2 separate regions of the Homo sapiens genome follow, and region 2 is linked to region 1. The links come from fine-mapping of genetic effects on gene expression. Tissue or cell type: whole blood. Region 1 holds a variant in brackets; the other region holds the start of a gene. All regions are shown on one strand. Distances are between the middles of the regions.

Region 1 (2,685 bases):
CACCATAATCTTGTTCCAATGCTACATATACCATGAAATTTAATATATTTAATAAACACTCATATTGCATCTACTATATCCTGGGCATCATTCTAAGTGTTTACTAACCTGCAAAGTGGGCACTATTGTTATCATCCCCATTTTACAGATGGTGAAGTTGAGACACAGAGACACAGAAAAGTTAAGTAAGTGCCCAAGGTCATAAAGCTGAGATTTGAACTCAATAATCTTGCTCCAGAATCCATGCTTTGAGCCACTAATCTAAGCAGTTTTCTCAGTACCCTGCAAATCCATGGGCAATTTAAGGAAATCTTGTGGTAGACAGAGAAATGGCCCCCAAAGATGCTTACCTCTAATCCCCAGAACCTGTGAATATGTTGTTACATATCAAAGGACAATTAAGTTTGCAGATAAAATTAAGGTTGGTAGTCAAATCACTTAAAATTGGGAGATGCCTAGCTGCAGCTAACCTGAAAATAGGGAGATGCCTGGATTAACTGGGTGGGCCCCATGTAATCACAGTAAAAACAGAATCAGAAGAGATAGCCACAGAGATGACAGCATGAGAAGGATTTCACTCAACGTTGTTAGATTTGAAGATGGGGTAATGGAGCTACAAGCCAAGGAGTGCAGGTGGCTTCTAGGAACTGGAAAAGGCAAATTAATAGATTCTTCCTTAGCACATCCAGAAGGAATTCAGTCCTGCTGACACCTTGATTTTAGCCCAGTAAGACCCATTTAGAACTTCTAACCTCTGTAACTGTAAGGTCATAAATTTATGTTGTTTTAGCCACTAAGTTCATGGTAATTTGTTAAAGCAGCAGTCAGAAACTAATAAAATTTCCAAGGGTGATTTTTGACCACAAGTGATCAGGGCATTGACTTATTTCTGTGTTAAGATGCAACTCCACTCTGTTGGCCTTTGGGCATTCCGGAATGAAAATACTTGATCCTTGCCATCTTGCAATGCACAGCCCAGTGATGGGACAAAGCCACCCATGGACAACAACAGCACAACGTGATGTTTCACAGAGGGCAGGTTCATGGGGAGAGATGTTAAGAATTCAGGCTCCGAAGCTGTACACCTTGGCCGGGCTCAGTGGCTCATGCCTATAATACCAGCACTTCGGGAGGCCGAGGTGAGTGGATCCCATGAGGCCAGGGGTTCAAGTCCAACCTGGGCAACGTGGTGGACCC[C/T]GTCTCTACTAAAAATACAAAAATTAGCTGGGTGTGGTGGCGCATGCCTGTAGTCCCAGCTACTCAGGAGGCTGAGGCATGAGAATTGCTTGAATCTGGGAGGTGGAGGTTGCAGTGAGCTGAGATTGTACCACTGCACTCCAGCCTGGGCAAAAAGAGCAAGACCTTGACTCCACCATTTACACTTAGCTAAGTTTATTTTATTTTATTTTATTATTTTTATTTATTTATTTATTTTTTGAGATGGAGTCTCACTCTGTCTCCCAGGCTGGAGTGCAGTGGCCTGATCTCGGCTCACTACAAGCTCTGCCTCCCCGGTTCACACCATTCTCCTGCCTCAGCCTCCTGAGTAGCTGGGACTACAGGCGCCCACCACCACGCTCAGCTAATTTTTTTTTTTTTTTTTTTTTTTTGTATTTTTAGTAGAGATGGGATTTCACCGTGTTAGCCAGGATGGTCTCGATCTCCTGACCTCGTGATCCACCCACCTCGGCCTCCCAAAGTGCTGGGATTACAGACGTGAGCCACTGCGCCCGGCCTATTTTATTTTTTAAGAGACAAGGTTTCCCTATGTTCCCCAGGCTGGCCTTGAACTCCAGCCTCAAGAAATCCTCCCACCTTGGCCTCCCAAAGTGCTGGGATTACCAGCCCAGCCAAGGTACATTTTTAAAGTAAGAAAAAACTCCAACACTTTTCATTTTATGCAATCTGAAGGTAGGTTGTGGACTCAGATAGTGATAAATGGGATTTTCGCCCACATGAATGTCTGGTGGGTCCTCTGAAAATCTTTATTGCGTGGGCAATACACATTTCAGGAAGTCTAGAATTTCAGGCCTCCCCCTGCTGAATGCCAGTAGCACTCCCAAATTATTGTGACAACCAAAAATGCTCTCATACATTTTGAAACATCTCTGAAGGCCAGGAACACCTCCAGTGCACACATGTGCTCTGGGTTAAAGGATGTCAGTGAGGAATTTCTAATAAGAAAGTGGTATGATCAGACAGGGGGCAGCCTTGATGAGAAGCAAGAACGCGGGCAGGGAGGTTATTCTGGAGGTAGTGACTCCGGCTTGAGACCATACATAAGCAGGGGTTAGTCCATTCCTACTGTTACAATCAAATACCTTAGACTGTGTAATTTGTAAACAACATAAATTTATTGCTCACAGTTCTGGAGAAAGTCCAAGATCGAGCTGTCAGCAGATTCAGTGTCTGGTGAGGGCCCGTTCCTCATAGGTGGCACTTGCTTGCTATGTCCTCATATGGTAGATGGATGGGTCAAGTTGGCTCTCTCAAGCCTTTTTGTTTTATTTTTATTTATTTATTTATTTATTTATTTTGAGACAAGGTTTCACTTTGGTGTCCAGACTGGAGTGCAGTGGCACAATCACTTTTTCTCTTTTTTTAAAGAGACAAGAGTTTTGCTCTGTTACTCAGGCTGGAGTACAGTGGCACAATCACAGCTCACTGCAACTTCAACCTCCTAGG
Region 2 (2,685 bases), 130 kb after region 1:
AGGAAAAGACGGTAGGAAAGAAAATGAATGTGAAAAGGAGTTAAATACAGTACAATTCCTTGATGCTTAAGCAATTACAGCTCAATGAAGCTAAATATTTCCATTCCATAAAGACATCGTTTAAAAAAAAAAAAAAATTCTCCCTTCACGGTGATGCAAAAGCAGCAGGGCCCAACAGGAACGATAACCTCTTCTGGAGAAAAGATTTTTAATTATTTTACCAGCTGATAAAAAGAGCACACACCGAACATGGACAGAAATGGAGTTTCGAAGGAAAACAAAACGCAGCTTATGCTTGGTAAAGTTCAAGGACAAAACTGTGTCCAATGCAACAGAATCCGCCTGACTACAATGTATGGGGGGGGGGGGGGGGCGGGGGGGAATGCGAACACATAGTATCTTTTTATAAAAGCAACAATTTGAGCTACAAAGTAATAACGGGGAAGCCAAAACAGTTTGACAGCCCGCCATAAGGGCCGCCTCAATCATGAGTCACACAATGCCTGCAACCATTTACAATAGTAATTAATGCACAAGTCCCCTAATTAAATTCTAAAAGGGTGAGAATGCTTTAACTAAGTTTACAAGAATTGCTTTGCGCTTTTTTTTTTTTTTTTTAAAGAAAGAAACACACGCGTAATTACGCATCTCCCCGCAATCCCTCCAGTATTCCCCCAGGCCGCTTCTCCCGAATGTCTGCTCTCCGGGTGCGGAAGAAAATGTCACGGGGGAACTTCTCAACCCAGAAAAGGCGAATCGGAGTAGAAATATACGATTATCGTGGGGCGGGAGACGGAAAGCTCGCCCATCTTACCTGCTAAGATTTCTTTCTACGTCTTTGGTAGCTTTAGCTTCCAATTCTCTGAAACAAAAAAACAAAAACAAAAACAAAACAAAAACACACACACAAAAACGAGATGCGCGTGAAAACGGAGCTGCTGCGGCAGAGGCTCGCGCCGGGGCCGGATGGGGGAGGGGAGAGGACGGGGGGAGGGGGACTCACAAAGCTGCGGGGCTGCAGCCCGGACTGCGGTCCCGCGGCGCGGGCGAGGCGCAACCCCGGCCTGGCCCCCGCGGCGCGGCGCAGCGAGGCTCCCCCGGGCCGCCCGCTCGGCCTCCGCAGCAACGCAGCCTGCGCCCTCCCGCCGAGGCCCGAAGTCTCGGGGACGCCCGGCGCCGCCGCCTCTGCTGCCGCCGCCGCGGGTTGCGGGCCCTGCGGCAGCGCCCGCGGCTCCTCCCGCCCGGAGGGAGGCCCTTGTTCCGCTCACCTCATGTGTGTAAAGTGCACGAGCAAGTGGGGCGCGGCGAAGGAGGCTCGCGAGCCTCAAGCCCTCCGCAGCGCCGCGGGGAGAGGCCCGAGCCGCTGCACCAGCGCCATTTTCTACACCGACCCGCTGCCGCCGCCGCCGCCGCCGCCGCCGCCGCCGCCGACACCGCCGCCGCCGCAGGCCCCAGACCGGAAGTGAATGCCCCACTCGGCAACCCCTTCCGGGGGCGCCACGGCCACTGGCCCCCAAGATGGAGGCCCTAGCAACTGGACCCGCAGATTGGGCAGGTCCTTGGCAACCGCCCCGGCGTGTCACGCTGCACCCAGCCGGACCTCCCTGGAGGTCACAGCCTCCGAGGCGCCCCGCGGAGTGGCTGGGGGGGCCTGCGGAGTCCCGAGTCCAACCTTTTTCGGTGCGGCCGGCTCCGGTCTGACCGAGGAGGGGAGTCCCTCCCCTCCTCCTCCTTCTTTGCTGCGACACAAGTTTCCTACCCGCCGCCCGGCCCCTCCCCCACTGACACACGCCAAAAAAAAAAAAAAAAAAAATTGCCTAAAACGCAAATTTTACCCCAACTGCAGCCTGATGAGCCCGCGCGGCTTTTGAATTCAGCCACTTCTAATTATTTTTGACCTTGGGCCAGTTATTTAACCTCTCTGCTTCTCTGTTCCTCCTCAGGTAAAGAATGCATACCTGAGGCGGGTTGTGAGGCTTAAAAGCGATTTTTATCCACCGACCTTTGACTCAGCAGTTCCGCCTGCACGGATTTTCTGCTCAGGAAATAATTCTGGGTATCTGCAAATATTTCACCTTCGAGATACTAAGCTGTGGTATTGATGATGGTGAAAAATTGCAAACAGCCAAAATGTCCAGCGCTACTAGATGGCTTCAAAAACAGCTACTGGCATGTATTAGGACACTGTAAAAATGATGTGGAGGAATAATCCCGGCATGGAGGAAATGGTTGCAATAGAATAAATGAAAAAGCAGGTTCCAACGTAGCTCACACAGTAAGAAACATCTTAGTGTAGACACAGTAAGATACATACATGTAGATAGACTAAGATATGTATATATGTAGACACAGATGCATATGTGTACATTAAAAGTATACATACATACCTACATGTAGATACAATAAGACATACATATCTGCAGGTAGATACAACAATACACATACATGTAGATACAGTAAGATACATATTTTCACTTGCGTGTGTTCTTTCCAACCTCTCATCAAGCTTTTTCTTCTAATTTAAAGATAATTCCTCCTCTGTGCTTAAAATCTATAACCTTTACTTTCTCAGAAACCCCACTCTGTGGATCATCCCATTCTCCTTTTTCTAACCTAAGTTCTTCAACTGGCTTTTTTTTTTATTTTTTTATTATATTATCATTTTTTTTAGGCGGAGTCTCGCTC

Evidence for each region. PIP is the estimated chance that this variant, and not a neighbour inherited with it, causes the effect.
Region 2: it holds the start of TNRC6A, and the variant in region 1 is fine-mapped to the expression of TNRC6A in whole blood (INTERVAL, PIP 0.99).

Annotation. Positions count from the first base shown.
Region 1 is chr16:24,855,523-24,858,207 of GRCh38, reverse strand. All of the region lies in intron 2 of SLC5A11 (solute carrier family 5 member 11), which reads right to left. Among named protein-coding and RNA genes, the nearest start is that of SLC5A11, 11 kb to the right of the region's middle. The variant C/T (reference allele first, on the strand shown) is at 1,198.
Region 2 is chr16:24,728,430-24,731,114 of GRCh38, reverse strand. TNRC6A (trinucleotide repeat containing adaptor 6A) reads right to left here and starts at 1,464. Exons shown (of 25, transcript NM_014494.4): 1 at 1,269-1,464; 2 at 815-862. The coding sequence starts at 1,273. RefSeq lists a silencer at 1,126-1,435.